Linked DNA regions of Homo sapiens. The protein of the gene in region 2 interacts with the protein of the main gene of each other region in a biochemical or structural test. Each region holds a gene or a part of one and is shown on either strand. Other genes may lie near its edges.

Region 1 (7,033 bases), on a different chromosome or scaffold from region 2:
AAGCAATCTTCCTGCCTCAGCCTTCCAAGTAGCTGGGACTACAGGCGAGTGCCATCACATCTACCTAATTTTTGGTAGAGATGGGGTTTCACGATGTTGCCCAAGCTGTTCTTGAACTCCTAGGCTCAAGTGTTCTGCCTGCCTCAGCCTCCCAAAGTGCTGGGATGACAGGCGTGAGCCACCCTGCCCAGCCAGATGCAATTTTCAAAGGAAAAGGAATCATTCCACATGTACTTTACAAATGTTCAGTCGGGTGCCAATCCTCTTAAGGAACTAGAAATTGGTCAGATGATTAATTACAAGTGGTAAAAACCATGCATTAACGAGCACATGGTAAGGCTGGGCACAGTGGCTCATGCCTGTAATCCCAGCATTTTGAGAGACCCAAGAGGACTGCTTGAGTCCAGGAGTTGGAGACCAGCCTGGGCAACATAGTGAGACCTTGTCTCTACAAAAGGTAAAACAAATTAGCTGGGCATTCACCTGTGGTCCCAGCTACTTGGGAGGCTTAGGCAGGAGGACTGTTTGAGCCCAAGAGTTGGAGGCTGCAGTGAGCTGTGATTGTGCCACTGTACTCCAGCCTGGGCAACAGAGCAAGAATCTATCTCAAAAAAAAAAAAAAAAAAAAAAAAAAAACCACCAAGTACTCAAAACTGGAGGTGTTTGATATTTTCAGTACCTTGAATTTTAATACTCCATTCATTTGATGCTTTTAACTTCTCTCAATCTTTGCACATTTATCTCTAAAGATAATTCCAGTGTCATCCAAAGTAGTATAGGCACCAAGGGACTCTGTGATTTTTGCTTTATTGTAATCTGAATTTAGAAGAGATGACTTTTTGGGAACATGCAGCATTTTCAAGGAAATACCTATTATTTCCCAAAGTCCTAAAGCCAGAGGCATTAAAAACCTAACAGAGAAATGCTAAGTATGTTGCCAAAATGTTCAGTGTTGCCAAAATACACAAGCTGTAACTACATAAGTTAAATAGTACCTTTCTTCCAAGTGACAAAGTGTTTCCATTAAAATCAGAACATTAATATTCCACATAGATTCAAGAATTAAGTCAATGCCTTCCCTGTTTGATAGGGACACCCACAGCTAATCCTAGGGCAGGACAAAGAGAAGTTACTTCAGGAGATTTCCAGCTTTCCTATGCCTAACTGCATGACCATGGGCAAATCAGTCCCCATTTCAATCTCTAAGGTCCTTTCCAGCTTAAAGTTTCTAGAACCCATGCTCCCTCCATAGCAGCAGACTCTTGCTCACTTAAGGAGCTTCCAAGCATGACCCATGTGCAGACTGTATTTAATCAGTTTAAAGGAGAAGTACTCCTGACATTTGATTATAGGGCTCAAGTCTTATTCACTAATTTCTAATTATCCTGGGAGCTTTATAAGAACTTAGTCTAAAAAGAATTAAGTTCAATCTTCAGGTATAATCAAGTATGTAAGGGAGAGTACTGCTATAAGCCCAGGAGCACTCAGTCCTCTCCTCCTCCTGGCCCCCTGGGCTGAAACTTGACTTCACACCAAAGCCCTGCAGTTAGTAAAGGGAGGGCCCCAAGCTTACCGTGCCATTTACCCTTATAAACAGTTCCAAAAGAGCCTGACCCAATCCGAGTGGACAGCATCACTTCACTGGCTTCTATTTCCCAATAATAGCTTGAATCTCTCTGTCCACGAGGCCTCTGAAACAAGTAGAGATCATTATTATACTCCATGCAATGGTAATAATCTTTTGATAATGAGGGCATCAAAGGATCAACCCATGTCATCTGTTTCCATATCTTTTAAAGATAAACATATTAACCATACTTCCAATTTTTGTCTTTTGAGAAATACCATTTTAGTTATAGCACTGGCAAACTGTCTGATGCAAGTGTGCCAAAAATGACAGTAACATTTATAATCTCCTTCATTGAATGTATTTTATTAGAATCTTCTCCCAAAATAAGTTTAAGTATTCTAATTTCCAACGAGGTTTTTCTTACTGAACCCTAATTGGCAGGAGGTACTGTTGTCTATACTCACAATTTTGTTTTTCTCCTGGGTCCCAGATACTGGTGCCCGCTCTCTTTGTGCTGGCACGGGGGTTTTCGGCTGTGACCAGCCTGTTGGGCTCAGATTGTTGGGGCTACTGGACAGGGCTGAAGGTGAGGCTTAATAGACAAGACAAACAGAAGCCACACAAGGATAAGCCAACAGAAGATACACCGCATAAAGAAAAAAAGCCCATTATTGTTGGCTAAATGACTATGGAAAAGTACCTGATTCGCTGTGACTTCGAATTGCATCCTGAAACAGAAAAGGAAAGCTGGTCAACTCCTACACACAAAAGATTTTCTCTGGGGGAGGGAAAAAAGAGGAGGAGGATGTGCAAGAACAAAATAGATTATAAAAACCTCTAAAAACCATAGAAATCCTAAACATACTCTAATCAACGTTCCTTGATTAAATTCAGCAAATATCAGTGGCCAGTATCTCCAAGGCTGATTTTTCATTAAATATTAGAAGGATTTAATATTCCACCTCCCAGGTTCAAGCAATTCTCCTGCCTCAGTCTCCCGAGTAGCTGGGATTACAGGTGTGCACCAGCACGCCCGGCTAATTTTTGCATTTTTAGTAGAGACAGGGCTTCGCCATGTTGGCCAGGCTCGTCTTGAACTCCTGACCTGAGGTGATCCTCTCGCCTCGGCCTCCCAAAGTGCTGGGATTACAGGCGTGAGCCACCGTGCCAAGCCTGGTATTAGTTTTTCATATATAATGAAAACCACATTCTTTTTCTCAAAAGAAAGCAATGTACACAACAAACATACTCTTTCAAGGGAAGCTAGCAAAGTTACTCTCAGCTGAGACCCTTCCAAAGATTGGGATTCTTGTTCCACTGAGGCTCAAAACTTTTTTTAAAAAGCCAGGGTGGGGAGGTGGATTCTGGGGGAAGCTCACTCTTACTCCACAAGGAGTTAGGCTAAATTGACTAGAAGTTGGATTTGAAAAAGGTAAGCAGCCTATATACTTTATCCAAGCCTAAAATCACAGAAAGCTGGAAAGACCACAAATCCAAGTTCAAAACCTACATTTTACATATAAGAAAACACATCTGAACAGGTAGAGAGACTTGGCAGGGTCACTTGGCAGAACCAGTAGGTGGCAGAAATAGAACCAGAAACCATCATATATGGATCTCAGCCCTCAGCTCTTTCACCACAAAACACTGCCTTATGGGTAAATTTGGAAATCGGTTACATTCTCCTCATGGGAGAAAGCAAAGGCTATCTTTAGAATTTATTAGAAACTGTTTGGAAAATAGTTTAAATTGCAGAGGGCTCTATGAGACCTAAACCCCAATCTAAAATTCATCGCTTGGAATAGAACAGTATAATAGAATAATATAAAACCACTTGGCCCCCATATCCTAAAAAAGGACATTTTTTGGGGGGAAGTCCTACTATATTCTCTTTGTGTAACTACAGTATAGACAAGATACTTGTTCCACACAACTATTACTAGAATGCTCCCACTCAATTATATAAAAAGATAAAATTATATATCTAATTATATAATTAGATAAAAAGAATCAAACCAAGCTGTTCCCCTGCTCCCAAAACATAATTCGGAATTTAACAAGAAAGCCTAGTTCTGGTTCCCAAAACTAGCTAGTCTTCAGAATTACCTGGAGAGTGATTCTGACTCTGGAAAGAAGAATGAAGATCCACCCCTAATCCCCGACCCACGATTGACTGAGCATGTTTTGGAGGGGAATGTGAGAAGTCCAGGAATGTGTGTTTTTAAGTACAGCAGGATAACTGCCAGGTGGGCAAAACACTGGCAAAAAATAATGTGGATTTCAATAGAAATCGGCAGCTGTAATTTCATTATCCAACTAAGCTGTTCTTTGTTTTTAAAGCAAAGCACAATTTATTTTTATTAACCACAATTATATTCCTATGTAGCAGAATATTTTCCTTAATGTTATGGTAATTTTCTTCCCTGTATCAATTAAATATCCCATATTTTATTCTGTGCTAATTTCTATAGTTGGATCAATTTATTCTAGAAAGAATTTTCCTATTGTTCCTGGAGTCTAAATACTCAAGAGAACTATGAATAATTTGAGACCCACAAATAATTTGAATAAAGCAACAATTAGTCTACTTTAAAAATGCTGACTTATATGTGATTAAATTAACAGGAATCAAAATTTACCCTGCTTCTAAAGTAAAAAATGATTAGGCACAACAATTGTGCTAATTCTTTTATAATAAAAACTCAAAAATTCTTACTTGACACAATCATACACAGCTCACTACAACCTCAAACTCCTGGGCTCAAGTAATCCTCCTGCCCAAGCCTCCTGAGTAACTAGGACTGCAGGTGCACACCACCAAGCCCAGCTAATTTTTACATTTTTTTTTGTAGAGGTGGGGTTTTGCTACATATAGCCCAGGTAGGTCTTGAACTCCTGGTCGCAAGTGATCTTCCCACCCAGCCAATTCTGACCTTTACTGTTCCCTGTAAGTATTACAGTGTTCATACAGGAACAAACCATTTAATAGAAGTAGCAGTAACTGGTATATTATTGTATTATCAGGACTAATCATAATGATAAAGTCAAAATAATAAAATTTATAGCTTATACATGATCTCCTCACAATAGTGGCAGGACAATTATGTTGAAAGTGATTTGAGGTCTGAATGAGATAAACTGTGCCTAAGGCAGCAGGTGTCTACATGATGAGAGAGAGCATAGTTGTCTCTGATAAGCTTTCAATAAAGAATATTTATTCTAGGGTTTATCAACCAAAAACACATTTGGTTACTAATGTATAAACAGAATACCAATGCTGTGAGCACCAACTAAGTAAGTCTAACATTAGCCTTTGGTTGGAATTGATTTAAAAAAAAAACTTTTTAATGCCCTTGGCCTCAAAATCTAACTTAACATTTTTTGTTTGTTTTTAAGGTGGATTCTTATTATGTTGCCCCAGTTGGAGTGCAATGGCTATTCACAGGCACAATTGTAGCTCCCTACAGCCTAGAACTTCTGGGCTCCAGTGATCCTCCTGCCTTAGCCTCTGGAGTAGCTGGGACAACAGACATACACCGTCATGCCTGGCCTAACTTCAGAAATTCATTTCACCTATCATCAATACCACATACAACATTTTTTTTACTTCTATATACTCTACTGCCAAAAAAAATTTTAAAAAGAAAGAAAGAAAAAGAAAACATGGAAACAAGTGACAAGAAATATAAATTTAACTTAGCAACTATTTCATTTTTGGTAGTCTGCTGTCTGACAGTTTTAGCAATCCTGTTAATTACAAGAAAGCAAAGGCATGAAGAAAAATACCTACTCTTCCCCTCAAACAAAATCGTCTGGACCACGCCCTGGGAGAAGCACTCAGGTTGTTATTCTAGTCCAAAGCAATGAGAAATAAAGAAGAATAAAGAACAAAGGAAGTATTTAAGTGTATTCAGTTGTTATTAAAGATGAAGCAGAAAGCAAATTAAACCAATAGGACATAACCAAAAAGCCAAGAGAAGAAAAAGCAGTTCAAAAACACTAGCTTTGGGCACTTTGACATCTCCCCAAACACCTGCTTATTAAAGTCCTAGGACTCCACCCTTTTATTTCTAAATAAAATCACAAAAGTCTTCCAGAGAATCTGTAGTTCTCCATCACTGTTAATTTCTGTCCCACACCAAAACTAAACTGCTCTTTAAATATCTTAGACACTTGTTCATTAATAGCCTATTCAAATCTGATAATGGGAAGAGTTCAAATGTTAACATTTTTTCAGGAAGTTTTAGTTCTCCAGTTGAATGATATACTAACCAGACTATTCAGCCAGTCTGAAGATATTATGGATATAAAATAAACTGTAAAAGTCCAGAGACCTGAGAAAGTGTTGCAACATTCCTTGATCAGATTTGAAACCCAAAACTCTGAAATAAGTATCAACCTCACCCCATTAATTGACTGACATTACCACCCCCAAGGTGCCCTATTACCTCAATCATCCTGCTGTCCACAGGCAGGGTGGTGCTGACCATGTGGACATTAGGTGTGGATGTCGACCTCTGCCTCTGGGAGAGGGAACCTTCAGATGAGGGACTGGAGGTGTTAAAGGTGAAGGCGTGAGGTGTAGAATATCTGTGCTGAGAACTAGGAGGAGAAAGAAAATTCCATGATTGGCACTTAGGCTTTCATACTGGTGAAGTCTTTCAAGTACATATTTGACTAAGTAAGATGCTTAAGGGCAAACTCTACCTGTACAACCTTTGACAAAATGTTTGATTCTTTCAAATGTGTGACATCTAAAAATTATCTTAAGTCTAGGTGCTTTTGCATACAAAATTTGGAACAGGAAATAATATATGTATTGGGAATTCAATGAAAAGGAGAGTGCATTATAAGTTTTCTTTTTTTAAATAAAGCACCACTCTACTCCAAATTTTTACAACATCTCCAGGAAAGAACAGATTAACATTTGACAACCACGCTACCACCTATTAAGCTAGTTGGAACACGCCCAGTTTAGAGACTAAATTTGAGAATTTATTTAAACAGATAAGTAGACGTGCTGAGCATGTCTGTAAAAAGGCCAGGATTTTACCCTCTGTTTGTCCTTACCTGCTACAACCAGCAAACAAAGTAAATAAATGGGAATTCAGTTTTTAGATGGAAATACCTAAATGTGAAATTAACCACTGGCCTCTTCCAGTCACCACCAACCCCCACCAACCAAACTGGGAACATGCATTAAGAGGTATAACATTTTCATTATTTGCTCTAAAGATTCGTTCGAGGTTTGTTCAGATTCAGGTAACACCCATGTATGAATTAAAGGGAAAAAGGCCAGCTTTTCTAAGGGAAATTGTTCTATTGTCTTGAAAAAAATGCCTTCCCACATAATCCTCTGTTTTATGGCTTCAGAGGCCTGGTTTCTTCTAATCTTCAGAGGTAACTACAAATTCTTGGTCAGATTTGCTTTTCAAATTATCAAGAAAAATAAAAGCCATACAG
Region 2 (6,994 bases):
GTTCAAGACCAGTCTGGCCAACATGGTGAAACCCCGTCTCTACTAAAAATACGAAAATTAGCCAGGCATGATGGCAGGCGCCTGTAATCCCAGCTACTTGGGAGCCTGAGGCAGAGAATTGCTTGAGCCCAGGAGGAGGAGCTTGCAGTGAGCCGAGATCGTGCCACTGCATTCCAGCCTGGGTGACAGAGTGAGACTCTGTCTCAAAAAAAAAAAAAAAAGAAAGGACTGTTGTTCGTGGCTGTGTTGTGGCAGCCAGCATGTTCTTGATGCCCAGTTGCTGACTGTGCAGTGAATGTTCCCTGATCTCCTGTGGTGCTGACATCCCGTGTTTCTTCATGCAGAGAATGGCATCATTTCCTGGTGGTCAACATGAAGGGCAATGACATCAGCAGTGGCACAGTCCTCTCCGATTATGTGGGCTCGGGGCCTCCCAAGGGCACAGGTTAGTAAAGGTTGTTTTTGGTGGGAGGTTGGGGAGGGAGCTCGGGGGCACATTAGGATTGACCCAATGCTTTTCTTTTGAGAGCCCTTAACCCTGCTGGAAATAGCATCTCAGCTTACCTCTAGGGCAGCTGCCTTCAGGGCACACATTCAGACCTGCAGCAGTGTCAGGTGGCTAGAGCCTTGGGTTCTGGACAGACGGACCCTTTGTGTAGAGCTGTCTCTGCACCCCTAGCCCTTTAGCAAGCAGGGAAGTTGGTGAGAGGGAAGCACTGTTGCAGAAAGCTTAGCATGGCCTTTTGGGGCTGCAGTGAGTGGAATACACAGTTAAACTATCTCAAGCCTTTGCCCGGGGTGATCTTTGAGTTTCTTTAAAACATTTCAGAAATGATCATAGTTTCCAAATTAACTATATAAGGTTGCTTTCTGTATTTGTTTCTGAAAAAGTCTAGCTGGGTATATTGAAAACAGATTTGGAAGACTTCAGTAGAACTATATTGAAGGCGCACACACACACACACACATTGTATTGTGTAGTATCGTGTTATAGCTATTATATATAAAATACATGTAGATATTTAGAGATAGAAAGAGAAAGCCCACCGTATTGAAACTTTCCAGGTTGGGTAAGTGCCACCTAAGCTGATGGTGAGATATGCATTCTTATTGCCTGGTGTTCAGTTCAGGATGTTTCCATTTGGTGGAACTGTCATAATCCTAGCTTTTTGTACAGCTTATCCAGCCAGGAGTTAACATGAAGAGGTACAAGAACATCTCTGACATGGACAGTTGGTCATGGGCTCATGGTTTCTCTGTAGACCCGGAAGCTTCAGATGCCTTTAAACCCTCTCACGCATGCATAGTAGATGGTAAAGGGACAGATTTCCCAGGGACCTAGTAAGTTCTCTAGGGCAGTTATAAAATTAGGCAGGTTAATTATGGGAAGCTTACCCATGAGAATAAGGCAATTCTCTCAAGTAAGAGCTGTGTTCTCATTTTTTTTTTTTGAGATGGAGTCTTGCTCTGTCTCCCAGGCTGGAGTGCAGTGGCACGATCTCGCTCACTGCAAGCTCCACCTCCCCGGTTCATGCCATTCTCCTGCCTCAGCCTCCCGAGTAGCTGGGACTACAGGTGTCCGCCACCATGCCTGGCTAATTTTATGCATTTTTAGTAGAGACGGGGTTTCACCGTGTTAGCCAGGATGGTCTCAATCTCCTGACCTTGTGATCTACCTGCCTCGGTCTCCCAAAGTGTTGGGATTACAGGCGTGAGCCACTGCGCCCGGCAGAGCTGTGTTCTCATTTTTAAAAAAGCCTCAGTAACTCATTTTCTTGTTGTTTTTTCCATATTCTTGTAATATGGTATAATTTACATGGTAACAAAATCCACAGATCGGAAGGGTTCAGTCAGCAAATGTGATCAATGCATACACCCATGGAAGGTAGCAGCCATTGGAAAGACAGATGACATTTCCATCGCCCAACGACATTCTCATGTGACCTTTTTACTTAAATTCCCCCAGAGCTAACCATATTCTGACTCCTGTCTCCATAAATCACTTTCACTATTCTTTTTTTTTTTTCTGAGATGGAGTCTCGCTCTGTCTCCCAGGCTGGAGTGCAATGGCGTGATCTCGGCTCACTACAACCTCTACCTCCTGTGTTCAAATGATTCTTCTGCCTCAGCCTCCTGAGTAGCTGGGATGACAGGCGCCCACCACCACGCCCAGCTAATTTTTGTATTTTTAGTAGAGTCAAGGTTTCACCATGTTGGCCAGGCTGGTCTCGAACTTCTGACCTTGTGATCCGCCCGCCTTGGCCTCCCAAAGTGCTGGGATTACAGGCGTGAGCCACTGTGTCCAGCCACTTTCGCTATTCTTGTGTTCATATAATGGTATCATGGACCAGGCACGGTGGCTCACGCCTATAATCCCAGCATGTTGGGAGGTGGAGGCAGTTGGATCACTTGAAGCCAGGAATTCAAGACCGGCCTGGCCAACATGGTACAACTCTGTCTCTACCAAAAATACAAAAATTATCCAGGCATGGTGGCATACGTCTGTAGTCCCAGCCACCTGTGGGGCTGAGGTGGGAGGATGGCTTGAACCCGGGAGGTGGAGGTTGCAGTGAGCTGAGATTGTGCCATTGCGCTCTAGCCTGGGCGATAGAGCAAGCCTCTGCCTCCAAAAAAAAAGTATCATGCAATGTGTATTTTAAAAAATTTGGGTGACTGGTCTGCTTCATTCCAGATAATATCTGTGAGATTGGTCCATAGATTGTATCAATAGTTACCCCTTTTTATTGCTCAGTAATATTCCCGTTGGTGAACAGGCCAGTTTGTTTAGCCATTCTCTATTGATGGGCATTTGGGATGTTTCCAGTATTTGGATATTATGAAGAAATATCCAAATATTATCCAGTCTTTTTGTTTAAACTTCTGTGTATTATTCTAGGACTATTTAGCTTTGAAAAGAAATTTGGGCACATGCTACACCAGGATGAACCCTGAGGAACATTATGTTAGTGAAATGAGCCAGTCACACAAAGACAAATACCGTACAATTCTATGAGATACCTAAAGTAGCCAAGCTCACTGAAACAAAGTGGAGTGGCTGCCATGCATTCTTTTTTTTTTTTTTTTTTTAAATTTTTTTTTTTCTTGAGACAGAGTCTTGCTCTGTCACCCAGGCTGGAGTGCAATGGTGTGATCGCGGCTCACTGCAACCTCCACCTCCCAGGTTTAAGCGATTCTCCTGCCTCAGCCTCCCGAGTAGCTGGAATACAGGTGTCCACCATCACACCCGGCTAATTTTTTTTACTTTTAGTAGAGACAGGGTTTCTCCATGTTGGGCAGGCTGGTCTTGAACTCCTGAGCTCAGATGATCTGCCCACCTCAGCCTCCCAAAGTGCTGGGATTACAGGCAAGAGCCACCATGCCTGGCAAAATTTACCATCTTAACTCTTTTTTTGAGGCTGGAGTGCAGTGGTGTGATCTCAGCTCACTTCAGCCTCCACCTCCCAGGTTCAAGTGATCCTCCCACCTCAGCCTCCTGGGTAGCTAGGATTACAGACACGTGCCACCATGTCTGGCTAATTTTTATATTTTTAGTAGAGACGGGGTTTCACCATCTTGGCCAAGCTGGTCTCAAATTCCTGACCTCAAGTGATCCACCTGCCTTAGCCTCTCAAAGTGCTGGGATTACAGGTGTGAGCCACTGCGCCCCCTCCATCTTAACCATTTTTAAGTGTACACTACAGTAGCGTTAACTACATTCACTTTTTTTTTTTTTTTTTTTTTTTTTTTTTTTGAGATAGGGTCTTACTCTGTCCCCTAGGCTGGAGCACAGTGGCACGTTTTCAGCTCACTGCAGGGCTCAGCTCACCTCCTGGGCTCAAGCAACCCTCCTACCTCAGGCTCCCGAGAAGCTGGGACTACAGGCACAGGCTACCTACCACATCCAGCAAATTTTTGTATTTCTAGTAGAGACGGGGTTTCGCCATATTGCCCAAGCTGGTCTCAAATTCCTCCTGGGCTCAGGTGACCCTCCCACCTTGGCCTCCCAAAGTCCTGGGATTATAAATGTGAGCTACCATGCCCGACCACTACATTCACATTGTTGTGAAACAGATCTCTAGATTTTTCATCTTCCCCAACAGAAACCCTGTCCCCATTGACCAACAGCTCCCCATTTCCCTTCCCCTAGCCCTGGCAGCCACCATTCCACTTTCTGTTGCAGTGTTTGTCTACTTTAGATACCTCGTGGAATTGTACAGTATTTGTCTTGCGACTGGCTAATTTCACTAATGTAATGTTCTCAAGGTTCTCTGGTGTAGCATGTGTCTGAATTTCTTTTTAAGGCTGAATAGTCCTAGAGTAACACAGGGGAGTAAAGAAAAAATAAAAGGCTGGATAATATTCTGTTGTGTGTATAAACCACATTCTGATCATCTTTTCATCCATCAGTGGACAGTCGGGTTGCTTCTGCTTCTTGGCTATTGTGAATACTGCTGCATTGAACATGGGTGTGCAAATATTTAAACAACTTTTTAAAAAATAACTTTGTTTCTGGCCGGGTGCAGTGGCTCACAGCTGTAATCCCAGCACTTTGGGAGGGCGAGATGGGTGGATCACTTGAGGTCAGGAGTTTTGCCAACATGGTGAAACCTGGTCTCTACTAAAAATACAAAAACAAAACAAAACAAAACATAACTGGGCGTGGTGGCACGTACCTGTAATCCTAGCTACTCAGGAGGCTGAGGCAGGAGAATTGCTTGAACCCAGGAGGCTGAGGTTGTAGTGAGCCGAGATCATGCCACTGCACTCCACGCCTAGGCAACAGAGTGAGACTCCGTCTCAAAAAAAAAAAAAAAACCCACTTTTTAAAAAAATAAGAGCTCATGGTACCTATTTGCATCCAGTACATCATTGAAGCTTGTAGAAAGCTGCTTAGTTAAAGTGAGGTTGGGTCACTTCGAAGTAGTCCTCCAGTTTTCTAAGCAAGTAAATTTTGGAGGTAGAAAGAAAATGTTCTCCTTTATCCTAGAGGCTCGACTGTGGTATGGTGGGCCCGGGTCATTGATTTGCTTTGTCCTTAATTGGTTGCTCCTACCTGACAGAAGTGAAATGGGTGTTCTGATGGGGGGTGGTGGGTGGTGACTTGAGAAGGTCCGGGAGCCTGAAGTGGGATGAATGAAGAGCACAGAGGCTCGTTGGGAGGCGAGGATAAGGGGGTGCAGAGGCCAGATCCCACAGGCCAGGAGAGGCTGGAACTAAGGGCTTGGGCTTGACACCAGTTACAGCAGGGGCCTAACACATTCTATTAGGTTGATGCAAAAGTAATTGCGGTTTTTGCCATTAATGTGTTAATTGCCATTAAATGTTAATTTGCACCAAATACCTGTCTGGACCCTCGGTGTCCTCCTTGTAAATGGTGTGGTCTGGGTGCCTCCATGTTGAAACATTCGATAAAAATGGATGATGTCCCCATCTCAAGTGCTGGGCTGTGTGTACATCTTCCCTCTGCCTCTCCCCACAGGCCTCCACCGCTATGTCTGGCTGGTTTACGAGCAGGACAGGCCGCTAAAGTGTGACGAGCCCATCCTCAGCAACCGATCTGGAGACCACCGTGGCAAATTCAAGGTGGCGTCCTTCCGTAAAAAGTATGAGCTCAGGGCCCCGGTGGCTGGCACGTGTTACCAGGCCGAGTGGGATGACTATGTGCCCAAACTGTACGAGCAGCTGTCTGGGAAGTAGGGGGTTAGCTTGGGGACCTGAACTGTCCTGGAGGCCCCAAGCCATGTTCCCCAGTTCAGTGTTGCATGTATAATAGATTTCTCCTCTTCCTGCCCCCCTTGGCATGGGTGAGACCTGACCAGTCAGATGGTAGTTGAGGGTGACTTTTCCTGCTGCCTGGCCTTTATAATTTTACTCACTCACTCTGATTTATGTTTTGATCAAATTTGAACTTCATTTTGGGGGGTATTTTGGTACTGTGATGGGGTCATCAAATTATTAATCTGAAAATAGCAACCCAGAATGTAAAAAAGAAAAAACTGGGGGGAAAAAGACCAGGTCTACAGTGATAGAGCAAAGCATCAAAGAATCTTTAAGGGAGGTTTAAAAAAAAAAAAAAAAAAAAAGATTGGTTGCCTCTGCCTTTGTGATCCTGAGTCCAGAATGGTACACAATGTGATTTTATGGTGATGTCACTCACCTAGACAACCAGAGGCTGGCATTGAGGCTAACCTCCAACACAGTGCATCTCAGATGCCTCAGTAGGCATCAGTATGTCACTCTGGTCCCTTTAAAGAGCAATCCTGGAAGAAGCAGGAGGGAGGGTGGCTTTGCTGTTGTTGGGACATGGCAATCTAGACCGGTAGCAGCGCTCGCTGACAGCTTGGGAGGAAACCTGAGATCTGTGTTTTTTAAATTGATCGTTCTTCATGGGGGTAAGAAAAGCTGGTCTGGAGTTGCTGAATGTTGCATTAATTGTGCTGTTTGCTTGTAGTTGAATAAAAATAGAAACCTGAATGAAGGAACTGAGTCCCCGGATGTTTTGTTCTATTGGGTATAGGTTTCATAAGTGTGAGAAGTCAAGTCTCAGGGTGAGTCGTCTCCGTGACCAGCAAGTAACAGCTGGGACTTGTTCTAGGGGCCATATGGAGGGTCTGTGCCTCTACATGTGCCATTAACCCACAGCAGGAGCAAACAGTTCAGATTTGAGGTTTCTAAAAAAAAAATCATAAAATGTGAGGCCGAGTCTTATTGCCCAAAAAGCACCTTTGCTTCAAGTGGTCCTTTTGACCCAAGAAGGATGTTCTAAAGAAGATGGCTGAAAACCTTCCCCCTTGGTGAAGTCTGGCGCGGACACCGTAACAATGCCTAAGAAGTAGCCTGCACTTCCCGTTCTGATGTGTTATCCACAGAGGCTCAGTACCAAAGAGGTGCGCAGGGTAGGAGGGTGAGAAGGTCACGGTCTCATGCCATCTGATGTACCGAAAGAAAGGAAAGGAGGTGTTTGAAGGTGCAAATCACTGTGATTTGGTCTCTG

Evidence for each region. The genes of interacting proteins can lie anywhere in the genome.
Region 1: the proteins of PEBP1 (region 2) and RAF1 form a complex in vitro, tested with the Homo sapiens proteins (3 studies listed by BioGRID and IntAct, with this or other methods).

The regions. Positions count from the first base shown.
Region 1 is NC_000003.12:12,598,118-12,605,150, forward strand, and holds part of RAF1 (RAF proto-oncogene serine/threonine-protein kinase), read right to left. Parts: intron 6,173-7,033; coding exon 6,019-6,172; intron 5,421-6,018; coding exon of another isoform or gene 5,361-5,420; intron 2,299-5,360; coding exon 2,271-2,298; intron 2,163-2,270; coding exon 2,035-2,162; intron 1,692-2,034; coding exon 1,574-1,691; intron 1,109-1,573; exon of another isoform or gene 996-1,108; intron 1-995. UniProt on the Homo sapiens protein: Serine/threonine-protein kinase that acts as a regulatory link between the membrane-associated Ras GTPases and the MAPK/ERK cascade, and this critical regulatory link functions as a switch determining cell fate decisions including proliferation, differentiation, apoptosis, survival and oncogenic transformation.
Region 2 is NC_000012.12:118,139,107-118,146,100, forward strand, and holds the end of PEBP1 (phosphatidylethanolamine-binding protein 1), read left to right. Parts: intron 1-344; coding exon 345-445; intron 446-5,479; coding exon 5,480-5,697; 3' UTR 5,698-6,478; downstream 6,479-6,994.